Linked DNA regions of Homo sapiens: all the other regions are linked to region 1. The links come from fine-mapping of genetic effects on gene expression. A gene starts in region 1. Each other region holds a variant in brackets. All regions are shown on one strand. Distances are between the middles of the regions. Region 1 holds the start of DPYSL4 (dihydropyrimidinase like 4). Region 2 overlaps LOC105378565 (a long non-coding RNA gene). Region 3 overlaps JAKMIP3 (Janus kinase and microtubule interacting protein 3).

Evidence for each region. PIP is the estimated chance that this variant, and not a neighbour inherited with it, causes the effect.
Region 2: its variant is the best candidate, but not a certain one, in a credible set for the expression of DPYSL4 in amygdala (GTEx, PIP 0.55).
Region 3: its variant is the best candidate, but not a certain one, in a credible set for the expression of DPYSL4 in whole blood (TOPMed, PIP 0.57).

Annotation. Positions count from the first base shown.
Region 1 is chr10:132,184,058-132,189,293 of GRCh38, forward strand. It overlaps DPYSL4 (dihydropyrimidinase like 4), which reads left to right and starts at 2,891. Exons shown (of 14, transcript NM_006426.3): 1 at 2,891-3,045. The coding sequence starts at 3,007. JAKMIP3 (Janus kinase and microtubule interacting protein 3) reads left to right here. Exons shown (of 24, transcript NM_001323087.2): 24 at 1-801. JAKMIP3-AS1 (JAKMIP3 antisense RNA 1) reads right to left here and starts at 2,695. Exons shown (of 4, transcript NR_184044.1): 1 at 908-2,695; 2 at 140-265. RefSeq lists an enhancer at 3,610-4,111.
Region 2 is chr10:131,855,567-131,860,802 of GRCh38, forward strand. It overlaps LOC105378565 (a long non-coding RNA gene), which reads right to left. Exons shown (of 2, transcript XR_946487.4): 2 at 5,096-5,236. Among named protein-coding and RNA genes, the nearest start is that of PPP2R2D, 43 kb to the right of the region's middle. The variant A/C (reference allele first, on the strand shown) is at 3,046.
Region 3 is chr10:132,156,437-132,161,604 of GRCh38, forward strand. All of the region lies in intron 19 of JAKMIP3 (Janus kinase and microtubule interacting protein 3), which reads left to right. Among named protein-coding and RNA genes, the nearest start is that of JAKMIP3-AS1, 28 kb to the right of the region's middle. The variant A/T (reference allele first, on the strand shown) is at 2,167.

The DNA.
Region 1 (5,236 bases):
GTTACATCAACATTTACATTATATTAACATCATCACACTCTGTGTTCAACACACAGAACAACATAGATACTTTAGTTTGTCTAAAGTAAAAATCCACATAAATAGCAGATTCCTTTGTTGACACCAGTGTGTTGTTTACCTTGTGCCCATGGTCCAGATTTTGAGCTGGAGAAGGACTATGGCTGTTCCTTAAAGTCTCTGCCCTTGCAGAATCTGTAGCCTTCAGGATACCCCGAGTGCCTTACAGGGCTTGTGAACACCGATACTAGAAGTCAAAAAGAAGAGAGTGCCCAAGTGTGGGTTTGGAGGCACTGACGCATTCGCCAACTCACCGTCATCCCATCCTTGAAACCCTGAGAGAGAGTGTGTGTTTTATCACAGTAATGGAATTCAGTTTAGCCTCAGGAAACTCATATTGTGAATATAGGTATCAAATCATATATTTGTTTACTGTATATTTTTTAAAAAGCTTTATTGTAAATTTATGCAAAAACTAACCGGGCCTGTTTTCTTACGGCGGCATGCCAGGTAGTGTGTGTATTCTCCCAGGCACTCCCTTCATAGTCACCCTCTAACCACGTGACATTCCGTTCCATGCTAAGCAGTATTCACAGGCCTAAAATAGGTTTGTATGGTGATCTACAAGATTTTACAAATATTTTTGTATTGTGATTCCTATGATATATACCAGAGAATTTTTTACTCGTTTGTAAATTATTGTACAGTTTTAATAAAAAATGTTTTAAATCTTAGACGATTAAAGTCCCCTCAAAGGTATTAAAGTTTGAACTGAAAGCCGTATGAGCCATTTCTGCACTTCTGAGTTCATTCTCTGAACAGTGCCTCTGCACACCAGAAACGGAGTCCGCGCCTTCCGCCCACTGTGGAGGAAAGCCCCAGTTCTCACCTGCGAGATCACCTGGAGGGCAAGCTCTGCAGTCGGGTGCCTGGCAGCACCTGGCTCCGGTCGACCACCTGGGAGGCTCCCTCCTGTGGCTGTTGGTCAAATGTGAACCATGGAAGAGATCAGACAGTTAGGAAAGGGACGGAACTTCTGCACGTGCATAAGAACAGTTGGTGATATTTGCCGTGGACGGTCCCACACAGGTGAGTAACAGACATTGCATTAATCATTTAGGGGAGGGGGAGCCCAGAGGAGGACGAAGGGGTGGGAAGCTGCTGGACCTAGCTCTGCTGGCTCGGGCCCCGCCAGTACTCGAGGTCATGGTGACTCAGTGGCCAAACTCTGGCTTTGAAATGCGGACTGCGGTAACAACGCAAAGGCCTGAAGTCTCTGGGTTCGAATTCAGCTGCTGCAGGCTGGGTAGAATGACAGATGGAGTGACAGCATCGCCCGTCACTCCTGTCTCGCCCCAAGCCTCTAACTCGGCTTTAAGGGAGATCAGCAGCAGTTTGCGTGGGCGGGTACACCCCACCCCCGCGCGCCCTCCACACTCGCCCAGGGTTTCGGAGTCAGGGCTTTCTTGTCTGGCGTGGGACGGCCCAAGGGGCCTGGAAATGTGGCCGGGATTCCCACAGCGGTTTCTCCGGTGCGCGCTCCCCGCCCGGCCTTCCCAGCGCCCAGTGTGTCCCGAGGGCGAGCAGCCACGCGTGGCCGGGACTAAGCGAGCACCCAGGGGCCAGAATGGGGCGTTCAGCACCCGCTACGTGGACAGAGCCAGCTCCGCGCAGCGCTGCCGGGCGGCAGGAGGCGGGGGGGGAGGGCGCGGCCTCCAGGTCCGCCCAGTGCACCTGCCGCGCAGACCTCGCTACAGGAGGCTCCGAGACCGGATTCTGTCGCCCGCTCCTGCCGTGACCGCGCGGCAGCCTCAGGAGCCCGCGAGGCCTCTGGCCCGGCCCAAGCTTGGCTGCGTGTTCCGCTGCGTGGAGGACGCCTTCGAGAGCAAGACGCTGCCGCTGGACGCTCTGGGCGGCGGCCGCCCGGGCCCTCGGGTTGGGAGGCGAGTCTGCGCGGCGCGCGGAGACCCCTCAACGGCCGCAGCAAGTCCCCGAGGGCAGCCCGGCGTGGCCCAGGCCCGGGACCCCCAGCAGGTAGTGGCCGCGGGACAGAGGCCGTGGGCCCGGGCTCGGACTCCCCGAGACCCTCGCACCCGGAGGACGCCGGGCGTGGGGCTCCCCCGCTCCCCCCTGCGGGGTCCTCCCTATCCGTAAAGGTCCTGAGCCTTCTGGGTCCTGCGACCACCCCCCACCCCCGCGAGGTCCCGCCCACCACCGCGTCCCGGTCCCTGGGGAGCGCGTGCGCCTCCTTCTGTCTCTCTCTCTCTCTCTCTCTGTCCTATTCGGGCCCCTCCTGCCCTCCGTCTCTCGCGGCCAGCGTGGAACAGCCTCGCGGGGTCACAGCCTGGCGCTCGGACCCTGGCCCGGGTCATCTGCGAAGGAGCCGGCTTTGGCCAAGGTGCCTTCCTGGACGGGTGTGGTTCCCAGAGCGTCGCGGCCCGGGGTTGACTGGCTCGGAATCCCGGGGCCTTGGGCGCCTCGCGTCTCCTGGGACCTGGGTTCCGCGCTGGAGGGCAGCGGGGGCGCGGGCGGGGCCTGGCAGGACGTGGCCGGACTCTCTCCCTCGCCTCCCCGGGGTGCAAACCCCGCGCACATCAGCTGGAGCAGGTTGAAATCCCCACCCAGCGCTCGTCCGCGGGTCTGCGCGGGGGCCCGGGGTGCAGAGATCAGACCCTGCAGCGGTTCCAGCGCTGGGGGGGCTTTAAAGCGAAGGAGTGGCTGAGGGCGGGGGCGGGGCTGATGGGCGGGGTGAGGCGGGGCTCGGGCTGGGGCGGGCCCTATCGGGGGCGGGGCCTGCCGGGGGCGGAGCCGGGGTGGGGGCGGGGCCCAGCGGGGGCGGGACCGGAACGGAGCCGTGCGGCCCCGCGCGCTCGCAGTCTGTCTCCCGCCGTCCCCACGCACGCGTCCCGGCTCACGCGTCCCCCCGCCCGCCCGCCCGCCCGCCCGCCCCCGCTTGTGCCGCCCCTACCAGAGACCCCCAGGAGCAGGATGTCCTTCCAGGGCAAGAAAAGCATCCCCCGGATCACGGTGAGCCCGGTCCCGCTTCGCCCGGCGCCCCCTGCCCGCCGCCCGGAGTGGGGCCTGGACGCCGGGCGGACCCTCCTGGTCTTGTGCGTGGGTGGGGGGTCCCTGCCTTTGCGTCTGGTCCCTGTCCTGGCGCCCGCCCTTCCCTGCTCGGCTCCTTCGCGCCCCAGGGTCCGAGAGTCCCCGCTAGCGCCGCGCAGACCCCCTTAAGGAGCGGGGCGCCCAGGCCCGGCCCGGCCCGGCCCTGCCCGGCCCTGCCGGGCCCTGCCGGGCCCTGCCCGGCCTTGCCCGGCCTTGCCGGCTTCCGGGAGCCTCGGCTGCGCCCGGGGAGAACCCGGGGCCGGGCGGCCTGTCCCTCGGAGCGCTAGCGGCTCCTTTCTCCCACGGCGGTCGGGTGGCGAGGCGGGCGGACGCGGCCCTTTGTTGGCCCGGGCTGGTCCGGGGCGCGGGGAGATGCCGTTCCCGGCGCAGCCCGTGGGTCGCCCGCCCCTTGGACGCACTGGCGCTGCGTCGGGAGCTCTTTGTCCGAGACAAAGCGATTTAGCCCCGGCCGCTCTGGCCGGAGTCCCTGGTGGCCCCGAACCCTTCCAGTAACCTGGGTTCAGCGACTCCAAGGAAAGCGAGCGGTCAAGGGCCACTGGCCGGGAACCCTGGCAGCCCCTGAACCTTCGAGAGCAGAGACCCCTCCCCAACACCCACACGCACCGGCGCGGGAGGTCCCGCTCTGCCAGAAACAAAGCCTCCCCGCTCGGGCGGGGGGAGATGGGGGTGGGAGGAAGGAGGCTTCGGGACCCGGCAGGACCTGGGCGGGGGAGTCCATGGGGTCCCAGACCCGACTCTGGACTTGGCCTCGGCGGGAGGGCCGTGGGGTCTGACCTCTGGCATTAGCTCGAGCCGTGGGCTGTGGGCTCCACTCCCCCAGACTCTGAGCGAGGAAGGAGCCCTCCCCTCTCCAGATGGGAGGGGCTGCTGCCTCCAGAGGGTTCTGCCCGGCTGGGTCTGGTCTTGATGCAGGAGGTCTTGCCAGTCAGCTGGCATGTGGGGGTCGAGTTTGGGGGTGGCAGGAGGACCCCTTCCCAGGGGAGGTCAGGCAACCATGTCAGTGCGGAGGGGCAGCTGCTTCCCGGGAACTTTCACCTCCATCCGGATGAGTGCAGTAAGAAGAGCACAGCCCCACACCCCAGCTGCGTCTCCTCTGGGTTCCAAACCCAGTCTCAGTGCGGGTGCCTGAACACTTGGGCGCCTATGAGCAGAGAGCCCAGACCACACGTCTCCTCAAGCCTCCTTCTGCCCGGTTGCGTTTTCTAGGGCTTCCTTGAAAATGCGTGGGTCCCCTGGGAGGGGTGGAAAGTGAAGAAGAGGGACAGCACCGGGAAGGCAGCCAGGGCCTGATGCGGCCACAGAGGCTCTGCAAATGCATGGTGGTGCCGGGTCAGGGCTGAGCCTGGCGCTCAGCTGGGACTGGGCAGGAGGAGGAGAGGTGCAGCGGCTGGGAACAGACAGCTCTGTAGACCAAGGGTCTAAAACTTCTTCCACAACCAGCCCGAGAGTAAATGTTGTCAGCTTTGCGGACCACGCTGTTCCTGTCTCAGCTGCTTGGCCCTGCCAGGAAAGCAGTCCTGGACATTTAGGAAGTCGATGGGCACCACTGTGTTCCAACAAAACTTCATCTGTGGATGCTGCAGTGTGAACTTCATAGAATTTTTGAGTCATGACATACTCTTGTTATTGTTTTCAGTGAATATACAAGAACGATTCTTAGCCTAGGGCTGTATGAAGAGAGGTAGAGGGTTGGGTCTGGCCTGTGGCATAGTCTGCCAACCGTTTGTAGACTATGGGGTAGAGGTTGACAAGTCACTGGGATCCTGAAAATACAGCCCCACAGTTAGATGTCAGCAGTGAATCCTGTAATGGAGTTCCTAGATAATGAACTCCTTCTCATTCTGAGAGTTTTACCAATTGTGCACTTCAGTTTAATGCTCTTGGCTTCAGACTGACGGTGCGTGAAGGCTCTAGCCCCAGGCTAGGGCCCTGGCCACCTATGGGTGGGCCCTGGAAACCCAGAGCAGGCGGCCGGACCTCCCTGTTAAATGCAGACGGTCAGTCCTGCCGGGTCAGTTGCAGGGCGTGCTGAGGCGCACGCCAGACGGTGGAGGGAAAAGCGTTGCCGAGTCCAGCCCGTGGGCGCGTCCTT
Region 2 (5,236 bases), 330 kb before region 1:
CAGAGTCCACTGCCGTGTGGCTGCAAGACTGGGGTCACTGCTTGCTTGCTGGCTGTCAGCCAGGCCCACACCCAGGTCAGCGTGTCTCCTCTATCTTCAGAGTCACCCAGCCCAGCCCCAGAGGAATCCTCCCGGGCCAGATCCCTCCCATTTTGAACCCCAGCTGCCCAGAATTTCAAGGCCCCATTAAGGACTCACCTGACCAGCTCAGGGCCCAGCACATGCCCCCATTGAAGGTTCACTGAGCAAGGGCCCTCATTACACCTGCAGAATCCCTCCCCAGCAGCCTCTGGACTGTGGTGATTGGATGACAGGGGGAAGGTGTGTGCCCTGCAAGGACGGGCACCTGGGGGCCAGTTTAAAAGTCTGCCTTCCCAGGGCTATGGGGAAGACGAGCGGAGGCCCATTCAGGGCTGACACAGCATTTCTGGGACAGCCAGCACCTCCGGACGCTGGCCTTGGCAGAGCCCATGCCCTGGACCAGGCCCATCCATGGCCCGCCTGTCCCCAGGGAGTGGCTCCTCCCTCCAGGACCCCGAGGCCTGTCCTGTCAGTGCCCATCCCTGCACAGAGACCAAAGCACCCTTCATGCTGAAAGCCCATTCCCACAGCCACGCCTCCCAGAAGCACAGAAGCTGCAGCGGCAGGAGCCAGCGGTGCCCCTGGTGCTCTGGGGCAGAAGCCAACAGCGAACAGCACAGGTGGGTGGAATCGGTGGTGGGGTAGAGCCCAGGAGGGTGAGGCTGGACCCCCTGGAAATGCAGGTGCGGGCATCTCCACCGGGGAAATCAAGAGCTGTGACCGGCTGTGCCCACCCTGGCGGAGCGTGTGACTGGCAGTGTCTTTGGGCACATCTTTGGGTGTCTGTAACCCCAGAGGGACACTCTGAATGTCACCGACCCCCAACATTCCTGCCCTGGAAAGTCAGGAGCGGGCGAGGTGTCGCCCTCACAGGCTGGAGCAGGAGGGCCCATGGTCACAGCTGTGCCCAGGTCGGGGTGGTGCCTCCTGAGGAGGGAAAGGAGCAAAGGCTTCCCGGGAGTGTGAGGAACAGCCTCCAGAACCCCAGGGACTTTCCAGGCAGGGAGCAGGTGCGAAGGCCCTGGGGCCCTACAACGTGCAGGCTACAGAAGGCTGGGCAGCCAGCCTGGGGGAGGAGGGAGCAGAGAGGGGAGGGAAATCAATCAGAGGAGCGGGGTGGGCGGGGGAGGCTGGGCAGGGCCCTGTGGGCCTTCAAAGCTTTGGCTTTAGGCCGAGTCTGAGATGGGAGCCTCAGGAGGGTGTTGAGCCCCGGAGTGACCTGAACTCTGCCCCGCGGGCAGCTGCGTGGAGATGGCCTGGGTGGGGGCCCATGCTGCGTATTGTTCAGTTAATGACCCTTAAACCACACTCACAGCCCCAATACTGGTGGGGTAGGCAGAGCACAGCTATGGTGGCCCCAGAGTAAGCTCCATGGCAGAAGAATCCAGAAGGAAAAGCTCAGATTCCCAGAGGCAAGCAGGCGGAAGACACTCCAGAGACGCCTCAGAACTTAGAGAGGCCAGTGGAGATTGGCCAGTAGAGGTCTGTGAGCCAGAAACCCGTCAGGGCAGGCGTGAGCTCAGATCAATGCCTCGGGCAGCCACAGGGAGAGAGAAGCCAGCAGAACACGTGGAGATGGGCAGCAGGAGTGCAGCGGCCCCAGGTGCGGCCAGGCCCAGCCAGGGAGACAGTGGATCTCACCTGGCCTTGGGCGCCGGGCACAGCCCTGGTGTTTTGTTTGGTGGTGCCGATGCGCGTTTCCTGTGGCACTGGAACTAACCGCCACGTACTTTGGTGGCTCACAGCAGCACAGGCATCTTTCTTCACACCCCAGGGGTCCGTACGGAGTGAAACAGGGCTCTCTGGGCTAAAGTCCAGGTGCTGGCAGGGCTGGTTCCTTCTAGAGGATCCAGGGGAGAATCCCTTCTCTCGCCCCTTCCAGCTTCTAGAAGGAAGCTGCCTCCGTCCTCAGAGCCAGCAGCATCCAGCCCAGCCCTCACATTGCCCTCCCTGGCTCTGAGCCCCTCGGCTTCTCCACGCTCCTCCCCGTCGGGTAAGGTCAGCTGATGAGCATATTGAGCCCCTCACGGCACCCCCCATGGCCCCCCATAGCCTAGCATATCTATAGGTCCTGTAGTGGGACAGCAGCATCCTTGGGGACATGATTCTGCCAACTCCAGTGGTACTCTCCAGTCTGGTGTGGAGGAAGAGATGGAGGAGAAGCCTGGGTGCACGCCTGGGGCAGGATATGGACCCAGCATGGCCAGAAGAAGCAAGTCAAACTGAGGCCGTGGACCTGCAGGGCACATGAGTCGGGGGTGCTGAGGGGTGAAGCCATGGCCTTTTCTGAGAAGTCCATGCAGATGCGTAAACCGGAGACTCATCCGGGGCGGCCCTGGGCACCCCCATCCCGAACAGGTCTCTTAGTATAGTTCATTGTCAGCGTGCAGTGGTTCAGAGCCTGCCTCTGACTGAGGCGGCTGCCCAGGGCCACAGGGCAAGGGGCGGGGGGGCGGGGACAGGACCCTGAGTCCTCATGAGGCCATGCTGAGTTGGTTGGCAGCACCCAGGGGAGTGACTGTGGAGGTCCCATCCCCATCTGGTCCTCAGGCAGGGGCAGCACAGCCTTCAGCCACAGCCCACTCCAAAGCCAGCACCACGATCTCTAAAGCCTGGGACAGGAGGCCAGCCTCAGCCGCCACCGTGCCACCCGAGAACAGGAGCGAGGACCAACGTTCCCGGCTCTCATTCACACCCAGACAAAGGATGCTGGTGTTGACGGATGGAGCCACGGAGTGGGAGGAAGCTGTCTCAACAGATTTGGCCCTGCTGCAAACCCATCAGGAGGCTCTAAGCCGGTTTCAGGATGAGACAATACTGCGCCCCATTTCCTCCCCAAGGGCCTGGAGTGACTTCAGAGAATCAAATGCATGGTGAGTGGGTGGAGTAGGGGGAACAGGGACCTTCCTGATAGCTGTTCAAGTCCAAGGAATGCTGAGCAGGAGAGATGTGGGGCAAATTTTT[A/C]GAGAGAATGTTTCTGAAGCGTGTGGTCATGATGCCGCAACCCCTGAGTGACGGCGGGAGGCGTGATGGGTCTTAGATCCATACAGGTTCGACGGCCCCTCGGCAGTGCGGCCCCTCAGCAGTGGGGCCAAAGCGCCATTGCCGGCAGCCGGTCGGGAGGAGGGTGAAAGAGAAATCCTGGCTGCACACAGAAGGCACCAACTGTTTGCTCATCGCAGAGCAGGGCAGTGGTGCCCAGGAGGGCGGGGCATCGGATACTGAAACACGAGCAGGTTTCCGGCATCGAGACTGGGGCTGGAGACTTCAGGAAACCTCATTTTCTTCCCCAAACATCCACCCTTTTCTTTAAAGTAGGCCAAAGGCCTCCGTTTCACGCTGTGTGAGCCAGGCGTGTCAAGCCACAGCGGTCGAGGCGGGTGTTTCTCAGGGCAGGCTTTAAAGGTGCTCGGGCCCTTCGGCCGGCGCCCTCTGCAGGCAGGGCAAAGGGTGGGGCCATGGGGTCCCTGCAAAGATCAGGCTAAGGCGACTCCACCGCACTGGAAGGGAAACTGAAGCCCTCCCAGGGTCACCTGCTGGACGGCAGCAGAGAACGTGGGAGACCCACATGGCCAGGAGGAGGGTGGCAACACCAAAAACGTAGTTTTGAGGGAGGACATGAAGCAGCAGTCAGCTGTGCAGAGTTTCTTCCTCAGAGTCTTGGGGATGAATCAGGACCGGCCAGTGGGGACAGCTGAGTATGTCTCAGGTCATCCACAGGGATGCTGTCCAGGCTGGTCCAGAATTGGCTCAGCCTCTCATCTCGCTAAAAATCCTCCAGTGGGGAGGGCACCAGGGGCTTGGGATGGAATCTTCCCATCAGAACAGCTTTCAGCCTAGGTGGTTGACGGAGTCTGGGGAGAGGTATGCAGGTAGCGATGCCCACTCAGCCTCACAAGTCACAGCAACGAGGCACTGCAATGAGTCACTGCAACGAGTCACTGCAAACTCCATCCCTTTTTTAGGACTTCAGCTCCTCATGAAATGGCTCAAGAACCAGAATTTTAGAGACATTTTTTTCCCAGTGTGACTGTCTTGGAAAGCAGTTTCATGAACAAGCCTTTTTCTGGGCCCAGGACCCTCCCAGTGACCTGGTGGACAGAACCAGTTCTCTTTGGCCACCAGGCTGTCTCCTAAAGTAACTAGAGCCTGGGGACCTTGATACAGTCGCCTCGTTCCACAGCAGTCTGATAGCCAGTCACACCTGCACGACTCCCATGGAGCTGACAAATTGCTTTGGTCTGGGGATCCCCAGCCACTGAATACTGGCCATCTTTACCTGCATAGGAACCTGGTCCCTAGACACCCAGTCACCTTTGCTGGGCTTGACTTGCAGCCTCCACACCACAGCTACGTCCTGACTGCTGGGAGCAGGAGCCTGTTTTGTTCTCTTCACCAGCCATTTGTGTCTCCTGTTCCGTGGGATGCCTTTCCATATTCTCTGCTTTACTATTGATGTCTTTTTATCATGGTGTCAGAACGCTTTAATATAAGAGATATTCACTTTTTGTTTAAAATTTTTGTTTAAATGTTGCAAAATGTACCAGAAGCAAATAATCGAAGGGGGAAATTTTGCACCTCATAAGACAAAGTCTGATTCCCTTTATGGCTTTTAGATATCCCGTCTTATGGGAGAAGCTCTCTCCCATCCCAAGGGTATAGAATGCTATCTTTAGGTATCTTTTAATATTTTCACACTTTACATCCAACTCTTCATTCTCGATGGGGTTTATTTTTATGCATGGTGCGATACAGGATTCTGGATCTTTCCTTCATCGCCCATCATGCCAGCACCTTCTGTTATACAAGCCCCCAGTTCCCGCTGAGCTGCCTGAAATTCCCCTGGAACTTGGACCCACTCCAGGCAGCTCTTCTTGCATGTTCCTGGGGCCAAAACCATGCCGTCAGGATTCCATCGGCTCTGTTGGGATCTAAGTATCTGATAAGGTGTGATTCCTGGCTCACTGTTCTTTAGAAAACATTCTCAACTATTTTCAGACACTATTCCTCGATGTGAATTTAAATACTTCTTTTTATTTCAAAAAAGAAAATGGAAAACATCTCTTTAGAAATTCTATTTAGGTGGCATCCCGTTCACACATCCATAGGGGAAGGACTGAGGTTTTCATGACACTACCTCGTTCACCTGTGACCT
Region 3 (5,168 bases), 28 kb before region 1:
GCAGGCATCTCCACTGCTGTGCAGCCACCACCACAGCAGGCCGGGAGACAGAGGACCCCACCCAGCCTTCGCTGCTGCTGTTCCATCTGCCTGGGGCGCCCTCCCTTTCCTTCTCCTGCCCATCCCTGATTGACACTGCAAGCCTCAGTTTGGTACCTCGTCTCCTCTAGGAAACCTTCCCTGACCCCCAGTGAGGTGGCCCTGACATGCCCCACTCATGGAAGTGGTTCTGCCTTTCTATGGGGCAAGCAGGGACCATGTGCATCTGCTGCCATCTGGTCTCCTAGACCAGCACGAGGCCTGGCAGGCAGCAGGTGCTTTGCGGGTGATGCATAGGTGAAGAGGAAAAGAGCTAAGGATTATGCGGAGGTTTTTAAATCCAGCCCACCTTGAGACAGGAGAGGGAAGAGAAGGACATGCATTTCTTTTTTTAATATTGCATTTTTTTTCTGAATGAAAGAATAATCAATGTATAGTTCTGATTTACAACACAGAAAAATCCAAGAAAAAAGTTCACTACGTGCCCAGCACACAGAGAAAGACTGTGGGCATTCTGGTTTCTCTCCTGATGGTCTCTTGGCAGGATGGGGATACACATAGTATCTTTGCAAAAGCGCGGTCCCCATGCTTATCTGAGGCTTGTTCTCCGAGAGATGGTCATCATGCCAATGGTAGGAAATGTTCACAGTAGAAAAGGACATTTTCTTCCCGTTCCTGTTCTCTGGACTCCAGATGCCACCAACAAAGGGGACCCCACTTGCTGGTTCTCTTCTCCTTCTCTGAAGTGCGGGGTGTAACCACATGTGTGCGCACGTGCATTTTCATGGATAGCCTGAGAAACCCACCAGCTGCAGCATGCTTCCCTTTCACCTGACTGTGCACAGCCAGGGCGCTTCCCACCAGCCCAAGGAGTGACTTGGTGTGAGCGCATCATGGACTGTTCATCCCCAGTAGTGGACTTAGGTACTGTCCATGCATTAGCTATCACCAGCAAAACAGCAATTCCTATCCATTTCTGACGTCCCGACACACAAATGGAGATTATCTGCAGGAAAAGTTATTTGGAATGACCAAAGGGTATGCACACTTAAGGTGTTGTTAGGAACTGCCGAATATTTCTCCCCATAGTAGGTATAACTTGCAGCCCAAACTTCCACTGCATGATATGCAGCCGCCTGGTGCAGTCCTAGCAGGCATGTCTCTGGTGAGCTCAAAGTCTAACATGTTTCTATGCAACTCCACGCCACGTCTGTTTGTAACCTTTCCCACCTCTCTCATGCTATCTGACATTTTGGTCAGAGCTCTTGATAAAAGAAGGCAACCAGCCCTTTGCCATCCATTGCAAATATTTCCTTTATTTCCTTAGTCAGAAGAATGGGACATGGCAAATATTTCACCCAGCTTGTTGTTGCTCTTTGATATCAAACACTGTTTTGAGGGCCTGGCAGAATTTGGGTAATTTTTACGAGGTTGATGGCCTCCAGGTTTTATGGCATAATTTCAACTTCGTACAGAAAAAAAAAAGAGATTGTACAAAAAAATTCCAGTGTTTTCTTTCAGCATTACTTTGAGGTGTGTGTGAGGCAGGTGTAAAGAGGAAATGGAAATTTATGCACCTCCAGGATGGCTGCCCACCGCCCCCCCGCCCCGCCCCGCCCCGCCCCGCCCCCGGCAGCATCTGTCTACTCAGCCATCCACCTTTTCCACCCTAACGTCACAGATAATTCCCCTTTGTAAGATTGTGTCTGGAGTGATGCCTCAGTCCCAGAATCCCTCCACTGGGTCGGGAGAGTTGTCCCATGAGTGGAGAAGTGGCCTATGGGCCCCCTTGACCTGACCAGAATGCAGGATCTGAGCATAGAGAGCTCCAGGAGTGGGGGCCCTGGCCCAGAGCAACTGCCACCATGGTCCTTGTGATCAAACATCCCATGGACACCCCATGGGATTAGAGATGTAGGTCTCCACACACATTTCCAGAAGATCAAAGCCCAGCTTCAGCTTTCTGTGAGGCCACCTCTCTCTGCCACCTCCACAGTAGCTGTGTTCTCAGACCTCAGATGGGGCCAACTGCTCAGGGGATCATTCAGCCCCAAAGACCAGTGGGGAGGCACATGGTTGCTGGTTGGGCCAGGATTAATGGCCCCTACTCTGGAGGGGACTGGGGGC[A/T]TCCTCCTGTGAGATGCTGTGGGAGGAGCATCTTCCTGTGAGATGCTGTGGGAGGGGCATCTTCCTGTGTGATGCTGTGGGAGGGGCATCTTCCTGTGTGATGCTGTGGGAGGGGCATCTTCCTGTGTGATGCTGTGGGAGGGGCATCTTCCTGTGTGATGCTGTGGGAGGGGCATCTTCCTGTGTGATGCTGTGGGAGGGGCATCTTCCTGTGTGATGCTGTGGGAGGGGCATCTTCCTGTGTGATGCTGTGGGAGGGGCATCTTCCTGTGTGATGCTGTGGGAGGGGCATCTTCCTGTGTGATGCTGTGGGAGGGGCATCTTCCTTTGTGATGCTGGGGGGGGGGACCTCTCGCTGTGTGATGCTGGGGGGGATCTCTCGCTGTGTGATGCTGGGGGGGGGCCTCTCCCTGTGTGATGCTGGGGGGGGTCTCTTCCTGTGTGATGTCAGAGGGCCCTCTCCCTGTGTGACGCTGGGGTTGTGTCTTCCCGTGTGATTCTGGGGGCGTCTCTCCCCGTGTGATTCTGGGGGCGTCTCTCCTTGTGTGATGTTGTGGGGGTATCTCTTCCTGTGTGATGTTGTGGGGGCATCTCTCCCTGTGTGATGCTGTGGGGGCATCTCTCCCTGTGTGATGCTGGGGGGGCCTCTCCCTGTGTGATGTCGGGGGCACCTCTTCCTCTGTGATGCTGGGGGCGCCTCTCCCTGTGTGATGCTGAGGGCGCCTCTCCCTGTGTGATGCTGAGGGGGCCTCTCCCTGTGTGATGCTGGTTGGGGGGGGTCTATTCCTGTGTCTTACTGAGGGGGCCTATTCCTGTGGATGCCGGGGGTGTGTTTTTTCTGCGTGATGCTGGGTGGGGGGGCTCTCTTCCTGTGTAATGCTGGAGGAGGCTCTCCCTGTGTGATGCTGGGGGTGTGTCTTCCTGTGTGATGCTGGGAGGGTCTCTCCCTGTGTGATGCTGGGGGGGCGTGTCTCCCTGTGTGATGCTGGGGGCATGTCTTCCTATGTGATGCTGGGGGTCCTCTTCCTTTGTGATGCTGGGGGGCCTCTCCCTGTGTGATGCTGGGGGGTCCTCTCCCTATGTGATGCTCAGGGGGCCTCTCCCTGTGTGATGCTGGGGGCATGTCTTCCTGTGTGATACTGGGGGGGCCTCTTCCTGTGTGATACTGGGGGGTCTCTTCCTGTGTGATGCTGGGGGGCCTCTCGCTGTGTGATGCTGGGGGGCCTCTCCCTGTGTGATGCTGGGGGGCCTCTCCCTGTGTGATGCTGGGGGGGTCTCTTCCTGTGTGATGCTGGGGGGTCTCTTCCTGTGTGATGCTGGGGGGGGGTCTCCCTGTGTGATGCTGGGGGGGCCTCTTCCTGTGTGATGCTGGTGGGGGTCTACTTCTATGTCTTACTGGGGGGGGCCTCTCCCTGTGTGATGCTGGGGAGCCTCTTCCTGTGTGATGCAGGCGGTGGCCTCTTCCTGTGTGATGCTGGGGGGGTCTCTTCCTGTGTGATGCAGGCGGTGGCCTCTTCCTGTGTGATGCTGGGGGGGGTCTCTTCCTGTGTGATGCTAGGGGGTCTCTTCCTGTGTGATGCTGGGTGGGCCTCTCCCTGTGTGATGCTGGGTGGGCCTCTCCCTGTGTGATGCTGGGGGGGGCCTCTCACTGTGTGATGCTGGGGGGGCCTCTTCCTGTGTGATGCTGGGGGGGGTCTATTCCTGTGTCTTATTGAGGGGGCCTCTCCCTGTGTGATGCTGGGGAGCCTCTTCCTGTGTGATGCTGGGGGGGGTCTATTCCTGTGTCTTATTGAGGGGGCCTCTCCCTGTGTGATGCTGGGGAGCCTCTTCCTGTGTGATGCTGGGGGGGTCTCTTCCTGTGTGATGCTGGGGGACCTCTCCCTGTGTGATGCTGGGGGGGCCTCTCCCTGTGTGATGCTGGGGGGGCCTCTCCCTGTGTGATGCTGGGGGGGTCTCTTCCTGTGTGATGCTGGGGGGTCTCTTCCTGTGTGATGCTGGGGGGGGGGTCTCCCTGTGTGATGCTGGGGGGGGCCTCTTCCTGTGTGATGCTGGTGGGGGTCTACTTCTATGTCTTACTGGGGGGGGCCTCTCCCTGTGTGATGCTGGGGGGGCCTCTCCCTGTGTGATGCTGGGGGGGTCTCTTCCTGTGTGATGCTGGGGGGTCTCTTCCTGTGTGATGCTGGGGGGGGGGTCTCCCTGTGTGATGCTGGGGGGGGCCTCTTCCTGTGTGATGCTGGTGGGGGTCTACTTCTATGTCTTACTGGGGGGGGCCTCTCCCTGTGTGATGCAGGCGGTGGCCTCTTCCTGTGTGATGCTAGGGGGTCTCTTCCTGTGTGATGCTGGGTGGGCCTCTCCCTGTGTGATGCTGGGTGGGCCTCTCCCTGTGTGATGCTGGGGGGGGCCTCTCACTGTGTGATGCTGGGGGGGCCTCTTCCTGTGTGATGCTGGGGGCGTGTCTTTCTGTGTGATGCTGGGGGGGCCTCTTCCTGTGTGATGCTGGGGGGGGTCTATTCCTGTGTCTTATTGAGGGGGCCTCTCCCTGTGTGATGCTGGGGAGCCTCTTCCTGTGTGATGCTGGGGGGTCTCTTCCTGTGTGATGCTGGGGGACCTCTCCCTGTGTGATGCTGGGGGGGCCTCTCCCTGTGTGATGCTGGGGGGGCCTCTCCCTGTGTGATGCTGGGGTGGTCTCTCCCTGTGTGATGCTGGGGTGGTCTCTCCCTGTGTGATGTTGGGGGGGCGGTCTCCCTGTGTGATGCTGGGGGGGCCTCTTCCTGTGTGATGCTGGGGGGGGTCTATTCCTGTGTCTTACTGGGGGGGGCCTCTCCCTGTGTGATGCTGGGGAGCCTCTTCCTGTGTGATGCAGGCGGTGGCCTCTTCCTGTGTGATGCTGGGGGGGTCTCTTCCTGTGTGATGCTGGGGGGCCTCTCCCTGTGTGATGCTGGGGGGGGTCTCTCCCTGTGTGATGCTGGGGGGTATCTCTCCCTGTGTGATGCTGGGGGGTG